3 linked regions of the Homo sapiens genome follow. The protein of the gene in region 1 interacts with the protein of each later gene in a pairwise test. Each region holds a gene or a part of one and is shown in the gene's direction. Other genes may lie near its edges. The genes, in order: ACOT8, ACOT1 and P4HA3.

Evidence for each region.
Region 2: the proteins of ACOT8 (region 1) and ACOT1 come close enough for resonance energy transfer, tested with the Homo sapiens proteins (one large-scale study listed by BioGRID).
Region 3: the proteins of ACOT8 (region 1) and P4HA3 interact in binary tests that used the Homo sapiens proteins (3 or more experiments, as listed by UniProt).

Annotation. Positions count from the first base shown.
Region 1 is NC_000020.11:45,847,366-45,851,016, reverse strand, and holds part of ACOT8 (acyl-coenzyme A thioesterase 8), read left to right. Parts: intron 1-2,341; coding exon 2,342-2,567; intron 2,568-3,651. UniProt on the Homo sapiens protein: Catalyzes the hydrolysis of acyl-CoAs into free fatty acids and coenzyme A (CoASH), regulating their respective intracellular levels. Displays no strong substrate specificity with respect to the carboxylic acid moiety of Acyl-CoAs.
Region 2 is NC_000014.9:73,540,095-73,543,845, forward strand, and holds the end of ACOT1 (acyl-coenzyme A thioesterase 1), read left to right. Parts: intron 1-1,192; exon of another isoform or gene 1,193-1,207; coding exon of another isoform or gene 1,208-1,313; intron 1,314-1,398; coding exon 1,399-1,601; intron 1,602-2,955; coding exon 2,956-3,561; 3' UTR 3,562-3,702; downstream 3,703-3,751. UniProt on the Homo sapiens protein: Catalyzes the hydrolysis of acyl-CoAs into free fatty acids and coenzyme A (CoASH), regulating their respective intracellular levels. More active towards saturated and unsaturated long chain fatty acyl-CoAs (C12-C20).
Region 3 is NC_000011.10:74,280,603-74,284,253, reverse strand, and holds part of P4HA3 (prolyl 4-hydroxylase subunit alpha-3 isoform 1 precursor), read left to right. Parts: intron 1-3,651. UniProt on the Homo sapiens protein: Catalyzes the post-translational formation of 4-hydroxyproline in -Xaa-Pro-Gly- sequences in collagens and other proteins.

The DNA of each region.
Region 1 (3,651 bases):
GTTCCTCAAGGTCAGCCTGACTCAGACAAAGTGAGAACTTCAGGGAAACCAGGGAAGTTCTCTTCCTCTCCAAATCTTCCCTCACCTGCTTGTTGTTGGCTGCCTTATCCCTGGCCAGTGCCTTCTACTCTGGTGGTGGTGGTCTTGTTGTTTTTGAGACAAGGTCTTGCTCTGTCACCTAGGCTGGAGCACAGTGACGCAGTCATGGCTCACTGCAGCCTTGATCTCCTGGCCTCAAGTGATCCTTCCGCCTCAGCCTCTTGATTAGCTGGGACTATAGGCACATGCCACCATGTCCAGCTAATTTTTATTTTTTATTTTTTGTAGAAACAGGGTCTCCCTGTGTTGCCTAGGCTCTTCCACTCTGCTTTGGAGCAGAGACACCTGACAGTGAAGGACCAAATGGCTTCCATATACATCAGGGGTGAAGTGACTGACAGTGGCCCTTGCCTGGGAGAGGCTGAATATACAAACAGACAATGGCTAGACCATGTAGAAAAACAGAACTCTGACGCACAATAGCAGCAACCAGCACAGGAAGCCAGCCTACTATCCACAAGTCAGACTTGTAGGAAGTCAGACCACTATCTTTACCAACCAGTCCAGCAAGCCAAATAATGACCACTGTAACAATTGGCCTCCAAAGCCAGGACTTGATTAATAACTGATAGCTGCCCTAATTTTTGCCCCTGCTTCCAACTTAGGACCAACCGGAGAAAGCCAAATATGTACTCCTAACCAATCACATAGGATGTCCCACTCTTTTTTGAGACAGAGTTTCACTCTTGTTCCCCAGGCTGGAGTGCAGTGGTGCAATTTCGGCTCACTGCAGCCTCCACCTCCCAGGTTCAAGCAGTTCTCCTGCCATAGCCTCCACCTCCCAGCTTCAAGCAATTCTCCTGCTGCAGCCTCCCGAGTAGCTAGGATTACAGGTGTGTGCCACCAGGCCTGGCTAATTTTTTGTATTTTTAGTAGAGACAGGGTTTTGCCATGTTGGCCAGGCTGGTCTTGAACTCCTGGTCTCAGAAGATCTGCCCGCCTCAGCCTCCCAAAGTGTTGGGATTACAGGTGTGAGCCACCGTGCCCAGCCAGGTGTCATGCTTCTAGTTAGCCCACCAACAGCTTCCCCATGCCAACAGCCTGCAATGGGAGCATCCCTGAAGCCTTTTTTTCCACTACAGAGCATTCCCATTCCTTTGCCTGCCTCTAAGTCTCTGCCAAAAGCAAGTGATGGTGGTTGACTTCCTGCTACAACAAGCTCTGATTGGCTGGGCGCAGTGGCTCATGCCTGTAATCTCAACACTTTGGGAGGCCAAGGTGGGTGGATCAGTTGAGGTCAGGAGTTTGAGACCAGCCTGGGCAACACAGTGAAACCCCATCTCTACAAAAAATACAAAAATTTGTTGGGTGTAGCGGCGCACGCCTGTAGTCCCAGCTACTTAGGAGGCTGAGGCATGAGCATGGCTTGAACCTGGGAGGCAGAGGTTGCAGTGAGCCCAGATAGCGCCACTGCACTTCAGCCTCGGTGACCCAGCGAAACTGTCTCTCAAAAAAAAAAAAAAAATTAGCTGGGTATGGTCATGCACCCCTGTAGTCCCCCCCCACTCAGGAGGCTGAGTCACAGGAATCGCTTGAACCTGAGAGGTGGAGGTTGCAGTGAGCCGAGATTACACCACTGTACTCCAGCCTGGGTGACAGAGCAAGACTCCATCTCAAACAAACAAAAAAAAGAACAAGCGCTGAATAAATAGCCTTTGTTTGTTCTCAAAAAAGAAAACAACAACAGAATAAACAGTAAACAGGCTGCAGGCTAGATTTACTGCTCCCTGATCTAGAATAATGGTTTTGGACTGATGACAAGATCCCAGGCATAGATGGAGCAAGATAGAAGCAAGGAGTATTAATTTTATTTAACAAACACATATAGAGCCCTCACTATGTGCCAGATATTATTCTAAACACTTTACAACTACGGATTCATTTCATTATCATTAAAATCCTGTAAGCGATGAGCACCATGATGATCCCCAGTTTGCAAATAAGCACACTGCTCAGAGAAGTGAAGGGTCACACGGCTGGTGAGTGGTGGAGCCAGGATTTGAATGCAAGGAATCTGTCAATGTCTCTGCTGTTTGTGCTGTTAGAGAAAAGCTCCACCTGCACAGGGAGAAGCCTGATGACAGGGCCTGGTGGTCTCTGTATCCCTGGGCCTGGACCTTAGCAGACCTCAGTTAGTAGTCACTGAGATGAAATGGAATGGAAGATGAGTAGTAGAGTGCCTGTCAGGCGTTGTGATGATGACAGGGCCTGTGGACCCACTGTGTCCTTGTGCCCACTGCAGGGGACCCGAAGCTGCCAGTACTGTACCAAGTGGAGCGGACACGAACAGGGTCGAGCTTCTCGGTGCGCTCTGTGAAGGCCGTGCAACATGGGAAGCCCATCTTCATCTGCCAGGCCTCCTTCCAGCAGGCCCAGCCCAGCCCCATGCAGCACCAGTTCTCCATGCCCACTGTGCCACCACCAGAAGAGCTGCTTGACTGTGAGACCCTCATTGACCAGTATTTAAGGTGAGAGACCTGGAGGCTCCATGGCAGACTTTTCAAAATGCAGCTGCTATCTGTTTGTGGGTCATAGAATCCTTTAGTGGGTCTTGACCAGCATTTTTAAAATACAGATTAGAAAAGAAGATACTGGAGTGAATAATATGTATGTATTAAGGGCAAGAATCCTTTTGTGAAACTTGAGGTTTAGTCATGTGTGTTTCTGGTGTGTGTCTGTACTGGGTCATGGTATAAAATGAAGGGCTTGGCCGGGTGCAGTGGCGCATACCTATAATCCCAGCACTTTGGGAAGCCAAGGCAGGAGGATTGCTTGAGACCAGGAGTTGGATACTAGCCTCGCCAACATAGCAAGACTCCATCTCTAATTTAAAAATAAGGCTGGGGCTGGGTGTGGGGGCTCATACCTATAATAACACTTTGGGAAGCCCAAGTGGGAGGATCACCTGAGCCCAGGAGTTCAAGACCAGCCTGGGCAACATGGTGAAACCCTGTCTCTATAAAAAATACAAAAATTAGCCGGGTGTCGGGGCATGTGTCTGTAGTCCCAGCTACTTGGGAGGCTGAGGCGGGGGGATCACTTGAGCCTGGGAGGTGGAGGCTGCAGTGAGCCGAGATCGTGTTACTGTGCTCCAGCCTGGGCAACAAGAGCAAGACTCTGTCTGAAAAAAGAAAAAAAGAATATATATTTTGTTGTTGTTTATATATATACATGTTTGTTTGTTTTTGAGATGGAGTCTTGCTCTTGTTGCCCAGGCTGGAGTGCAGTGACACCATCTCGGCTCACTGCAGCCTCTGACTCCCAGACTCAAGTGATCCTCCCGCCTCAGCCTCCCAAGTAGCTGGGATTACAGGCACCTGCTACCATGCCCAGCTAATTTTGTATTTTTAGTAGAGATGGCGTTTCACCATGCTATCCAGGCTGGTCTCAAACTCTTGATCTCAGGTGATCCACCCACCTTGACCTCCTAAAGTGCTGGGATTATAGGCATGAGCCACCATACCTGGGAAAAAAAACCATATATATATTTTATATATATATGTATATAGAAATACTTCCGTAACCACTTGTTAAGTACCACCTCCCCAGCCC
Region 2 (3,751 bases), on another chromosome or scaffold:
AGCATTATCAATTGCTGACCAGTATGTGGAGGAAATGAAACTCACTGCTAGAAGGAGTCAACATATTCATCTGCTCTGGGCAACAATTTGTCTTAACTTACAAAGTTAAATATGTTATTCTACTTGTACATGTGCACCAGGAGGCATATTCCTTATAAGAGGAAAGCCATTGCAGATGAGCAGTCTGGATTAATTTAAAAAAAGAGCAAAGTCAACTGGAAACAGTCCAAATGTCCATCAACAATAGAACAGATTAATAAATTGAGGTATATTTCCAGCAGTCAAAGTGATTGAACTACAGCTAGAAGAATCAACATCTATCAAGATATACAAAAGAAAAGAAAAAAATAAAAAAGAATCAACATGGATGAATCTCCAAACCACTGTTGAGTGAAACAGTCAAACACTAGGAGAACACATTCAGTATCATTCCATTTAGATACAGTTCAAAAAATAGGCAAAATAAAATATTGTTTAAGGTACATAATCTAAGTGGTAATACTATGAAGAAAACCAAGAGTGATACACAGAAAGTCCAGGATACTGGAAAGAGAGGAAAGGGCACAGGGGTCTGTGGGACGTTGATGGTTTGCGGGTATCAGCACTGAACTATGTCTTAAAAGTGTTGCCTGTAAGGTGTTTGCATTCTTTTTTTTTTTTTTTTTTTGAGACAGTGTCTCGCTCTTTCGCCCAGGCTGGAGTAGTGGCACAATCTTGGCTCACTGCAACCTCCAACTCCCGGGTTCAAGCGATTCTCCTCCCTCAGCCTCCCGAGTAGCTGGGATTACAGGTGGCCGCCACCACACCCAGCTAATTTTTGTATTTTTAGTACAGATGGGGTTTCACCATGTTGGCCAGGCTGGTCTCGAACTCCTGACCTCAGGTGATCCACCCGTCTCAGCCTCCCAAAGTGCTGGGATTACAGGCGTGAGCCACCAGACCCAGCCTGCATTATTATTCTTTAATTTTGTGTGAAACACAAAACCTTTAATGTAAATGATAAAAATATTCAGTAAGTGGAGTCATTCAGAATGAGTAGCCTTTTGAGTCTGTCTCCATTGAATAAGTGCATTCTGTTGAGTGCACTGGAGAGGAATTTGTGCTCTTCTATGTAGCAGTCTTTCTTTTTGTTTCTTGGTGGTGCACCATTAAATGGATTCATTCACCAGTTAAAGGACATTTGGGTTGTTTCCAGTCTTTGGCTACAATGAATAAAGTCACTATAAACACTTGCCAGAAGTTTCTGGACGAACACAGGTTTTCATTTCTCGTGGGTAGATACCTAGGAGTGGGATTGCTGGGTCACATGTGTGGTAAGTATATGTTTAACTTGGTAAGAAACCATCCAACTGTTTCAGGAATAGCTTAGTTTTGCATTTTGTTTTGTTTCTTCCCAAGAACCTGGGCCCTTTCCTGGCATTGTGGACATGTTCGGAACTGGAGGTGGCCTGCTGGAGTATCGGGCTAGTCTGCTGGCTGGGAAGGGTTTTGCTGTGATGGCTCTGGCTTACTATAACTATGAAGACCTCCCCAAGACCATGGAGACGCTCCATCTGGAGTACTTTGAAGAAGCTGTGAACTACTTGCTCAGTCATCCTGAGGTGAGTTCTTCTCTCAGATTTATGGGCTATGATGTATCAGGTCTCTTCTTAAATGGTCTGGGTTTTCACAGAAGTTAGCTCATTCATGACAGCCATTCCCTACCCCAACACACACTACCTTTTTTAGTCACTTCTTATAGACAGTTTCTTTCTTTCTTCTTCTTCTTCTTTCTTTTTTTGAGATGGAGTCTCACTCTGTTGCCAGGCTGGAGTCCAGTGGTGCGATCTTGGCTCACTGCAACCTCCACCTCCCAAGTTCAAGTGATTCTTGTGCCCCAGCCTCCCAAGTAGCTGGGATTACAGGCACCTGCCAACATGCCTGGATAATTTTTGTATTTTCAGTAGAGACGGGGTTTCACAATATTTGTCAGGCTGGTCTTGAATTCCTGACCTCAAATGATCCACCTGCCTTGGCCTCCCCAGGTGCTGGATTACAGGCATGAGCCACTATGCCTAGCCTAATTTTTGTATTTTTTTTTTTTAGTAGAGATGGGGTTTCGCCATGTTGGCCAGGCTGGTCTCAAACTCCTGACCTCAAGTGATCTGCCCACCTCGGCCTCCCAGAGTGCTGGAATTACAGGCATGAGCCACCACACCTGGCCTCTTATAGACAGTTTCTATTCAATTCTATATTACTATATTTCCTGCTAGTAAAGATATTTGTAGTTGGTATTATGCAATTTTAAATTCCAGTATGTTTTTTCTTTCTTTTTTTTTTTTTTTTTTTAAGACGGAGTCTTGCCGTGTCAACGAGGCTGGAGTGCAGTGGCATGATCTCGGCTTACTGCAACCTCCACCTCCCAGGTTCAAGCGATTCTCCTGCCTCGGCCTCCTGAGTAGCTGGGACTACAGGCGCATGCCACTTCTGCCTGGCTAATTTTTGTATTTTTAGTAGAGACAGGGTTTCACCATATTGGCCAGGCTGGTCTCGAACTCCTGACCTCAAATGATCCACCCGCCTCAGCCTCCCAAACTGTTGGGATTACAGGCGTCAGCCACCACGCCCGGCCATGAGATGACGTACTTGTTGATGACGACTCAGTTTAGTTATGACAGTGGGAATGGGTGGCTCAGGTGGGAGACAGAAAAAGATCATGGGAGATAATGAGATTAAGGAACTGAGAAACCAGAGTAATTGATAGATCTTCCACATGGTTATCACCAAGAGTGGTGATGGACAAATTGTGGAAAGGAAGAGATAGAGGGGAGGTAAATTCCCAAAGCTGCAAATCTGGGTAAATGGTAGAACCCAGATTCAGACTCAGGTTCAACTAACTTCCAGGGTGGGCACAACTCACCATATTCCACTGTTTGTGGAGCCATTCTTCTTCTTTTTCCTTTGTCCCTTTCTCAGGTAAAAGGTCCAGGAGTTGGGCTGCTTGGAATTTCCAAAGGGGGTGAGCTCTGCCTTTCCATGGCCTCTTTCCTGAAGGGCATCACGGCTGCTGTCGTCATCAACGGCTCTGTGGCCAATGTTGGGGGAACCTTACGCTACAAGGGCGAGACCCTGCCCCCTGTGGGCGTCAACAGAAATCGCATCAAGGTGACCAAAGATGGCTATGCAGACATTGTGGATGTCCTGAACAGCCCTTTGGAAGGACCTGACCAGAAGAGCTTCATTCCTGTGGAAAGGGCAGAGAGCACCTTCCTGTTCCTGGTAGGTCAGGATGACCACAACTGGAAGAGTGAGTTCTATGCTAATGAGGCCTGTAAACGCTTGCAGGCCCATGGGAGGAGAAAGCCCCAGATCATCTGTTACCCAGAGACAGGGCACTATATTGAGCCTCCTTACTTCCCCCTGTGTCGGGCTTCCCTGCATGCCTTGGTGGGCAGTCCTATTATCTGGGGAGGGGAGCCCAGGGCTCATGCCATGGCTCAGGTGGATGCTTGGAAACAACTCCAGACTTTCTTCCACAAACACTTGGGTGGCCACGAGGGGACAATCCCATCAAAAGTGTAAATTTTATTTGATCATGTGGCCTCTCTGTTGCTAATCTCTCCTGGAAACATCTGCCACATTTAGTGTGTGTATGTGTATTCATTCTTTCTCATAACTTCTTAAAGTTTCTTCCCCTCATTATTAAAATGAATTTACCAGTAAGAATGAGTTTTTAAGATTTTTATAAACTGTATACTTTATCAGTTTGGGA
Region 3 (3,651 bases), on another chromosome or scaffold:
CAAGCCAAGCTGGATGTCAATGGGAAGAGGACATTTAATCCTCCCCCTAGGAAGTGTGCTAAATATTAACAAGAAAAAATGCACCTCTATAAGCATGTTGCCTCTTTAAAGATATTGTCTCAGAATTATTTCTGTCAAGCCAGACATTGTGCCCTTAACATGTGCAGTTCATCCAGGCAGCCATTAGTCATTCGTCAACAGAATAGAGCCCACTGTGTGCCAGACACTGGCCTGGGTGCTGGGCTTTTACAGTGAGATGAAGTATTGGTTCTTTCCTCTTGGAAACTTAGTGCACAATGGAGAAAAACAAATATTTACACTACACTATGATACATGCTATCATAGAGGTGTGGGCAGAGAGTTGTGCTATGCACATAAAAAAGCAAGGCTTCCTCTAAAGAAAAGGCAATTGGGTGAAGAAGAGATGGGGAAGGGAGGAAGAATCAGGGAAGGCTTCACTGTGGAGGTGACATCTATCAGAGAAAGAAGGTAGCAAAGGGTATTCCAGAAAGACAAAACAGTATGTGCAAGGGCCTGATATGTGGTATGTTCAGAGACTGGGCAGAAGCTTGGTGGCTGAAGTGTGCAAGGGATGGGGGCGAGAGGTGATAGGAAATGAAGCTAGATGTGAGACACCATTAGCAGATGCTATAAATGCCATGCCGGGGAGTTTGGATTTTATCCTGTAGGCAGCAGGAGAGCTGTTGGACAGTTTTAATGGGAGAGTTGCATGATCATGTCTGATTTTTAAGGAAGACTGTAACAGCAGACATGGATTGGAGGGAGAAGAGGGGCAATCATCATTTCATCTAAAAGCCCCTCCAGGAAAGTCTAGAATCTTTGCACAGAAGCTTTTTGAGATAATTAAGCCCCACTGGTGAATTGGAGCAAACAGGTTCAGCTTTGCAGTGAGCCAGCAGTAGTAGCTTTTGGCCAGCAGCTGCTTTTTCCTTATAACAGCCCTGTTGCCATGGTAACGGGAGAAGTGACCCACCCAGAGACGTTGATTTAAATGTTCATGGCCATGTCGTCCATTTAGCATGCACAGATCTTGGCACACTTCCTTCCCCTAGAAGTGTCTCTCTGGGGCTGCTGATGCCTGTCTGGTCTGTGGCTCTCCCAGGAATCAGCCCTGGACTGACATGGTAGTGGCTTCCCCATGGGAACTGAAGACAGATGCCTCAGTGGCTTGTGTTGAATATCTCTGCTTCCTAGTCACTGTCCCTTTCCCAAAGCACACTCACTCATCACTTCTCTCTCTCACCACATCCTGCCCATCTTTGAAGACTCAGTTGAAGCCCTGCACCTTCGCTGGGCCCGCTAGCCCTGATCATTCTGGCCTCCTTTGGTTCTTTTTCAGAGCACTTTTTGGAGCCATATACAATTACCTATTCCTCCTCTGAACTCTAAGCTTTTTCTCACTGGTTGTTTGGTACTTAATTTTTAAATGTATTCTGCCATTTATGTGTTGTTTGACATCACTGACAGTTTCCTGGGTCAGCATCCTGTCTCCCCAGTCAGACTGTAAACTAGCAGGCATCATCTTTCTGCAAATGCCTTGCCCCATGTTCTTCCCATTGCTGCCAGAGTAAATCTTTAAAAGGTCAGGTCTGACCACTCAAGCCCTTGCTGAAACTCTTCACTGGGTCACTTTTGCCTTTGAGTGCTTACAAGTCTCCATGGCCTGGCTGCTGCCAACCCCTTCTACCACATCTCCCCCGGCACTTGACGCTCCAGCTGCACACTCTTCTGTCTGCCTGGAACGAACTGCCCTTGACTTCTCACCTGTATGATTCCAGTGTGTCTTGTGGACATCCTGGAAAGACTCCCTGTCCCTCATAAGAATGGGCTATGTGTCCCTCTTTCTATTGCCATGGCATTCTATACTTGCCTATTATGGCCCCATTAGATGTCTTAGGGGCAGGGACATTGTCTGGATTAACATTGTTTTTCCAGTGCCTAGCACAGTGCTTAGCACAGAGAACAACCAATAAATATTTGTTCCAAAAAACGAGTGACTGGTAGGTAGACAATTAATGATTGTTACAGGAAATAAATATAAGGTGACTCCTTAATTTGGGATGGGGGGGATTCCTTAGGGTTTTTTTTTGTTTTTTTTTTTTAAACCATTGATTTTGCCCTAAAAGAACAGAAGGGAGCATCTCTCTTCTATGAGTTTCTCCTCTACAAATGGCTCAGGACAGGACACCAGGGACAATGGATGGAGGCAACATCAATCCCCTTCTGATTTCCTGCTTCCTAAGATTGTAGAGCCACATGTGAGAGGAACTCGCAAGCACATGTTGTTCATAAGCTGCATTTTATTTATTTTTTATTTTTTTGTCCCAAACTTTTATTATTATTATTATTATTATTATTATTATACTTTAAGTTTTAGGGTACATGTGCACATTGTGCAGGTTAGTTACATACGTATACATGTGCCATGCTGGTGCGCTGCACCCACTAACTCGTCATCTAGCATTAGGTATATCTCCCAATGCTATCCCTCCCACCTCCCTCCACCCCACAACAGTCCCCAGAGTATGATGTTCCCCTTCCTGTGTCCATGTGATCTCATTGTTCAATTCCCACCTATGAGTGAGAATATGTGGTGTTTGGTTTTTTGTTCTTGTGATAGCTTACTGAGAATGATGATTTCCAATTTCATCCATGTCCCTACAAAGGACATGAACTCATCATTTTTTATGGCTGCATAGTATTCCATGGTGTATATGTGCCACATTTTCTTAATCCAGTCTATCATTGTTGGACATTTAGGTTGGTTCCAAGTCTTTGCTATTGTGAATAATGCCGCAATAAACATACGTGTGCATGTGTCTTTATAGCAGCATGATTTGTAGTCCTTTGGGTATATACCCAGTAATGGGATGGCTGGGTCAAATGGTATTTCTAGTTCTAGATCCCTGAGGAATTGCCACACTGACTTCCACAATGGTTGAACTAGTTTACAGTCCCACCAACAGTGTAAAAGTGTTCCTATTTCTCCACATCCTCTCCAGCACCTGTTGTTTCCTGACTTTTTAATGATTGCCATTCTAACTGGTGTGAGATGGTAACTCATTGTGGTTTTGATTTGCATTTCTCTGATGGCCAGTAATGGTGAGCATTTTTTCATGTGTTTTTTGGCTGCATAAATGTCTTCTTTTGAGAAGTGTCTGTTCATGTCCTTCGCCCACTTTTTGATGGGGTTGTTTTTTTCTTGTAAATTTGTTTGAGTTCATTGTAGATTCTGGATATTAGCCCTTTGTCAGATGAGTAGGTTGCAAAAATTTTCTCCCATTTTGTAGGTTGCCTGTTCACTCTGATGGTAGTTTCTTTTGCTGTGCAGAATTTAGATGGGGAAACAGGCCCAAGGAAAGGAAGAGGCTTTTCCAAGACTGTCTATCTGGTTTAGCAGGAGGGACAATGACATTATGGAAGCTTCAGAGAAGGGAAAGAGCTTCTGTCTGTGTAGCTCATTGCCCCAGGCACTGCTCTGCCTGCCTGTGAAGCACCAGAGCTGGGTCTGAGCCCTGTGAGTACCTTTAAGGGCAGTGCCCTATTTCATTCATTTGTTTATTTAACCAGTACTAAGCACCTACTCCACCACCAGGTGTTGAATGGACCCTGGGGATACAGCACTGAAAA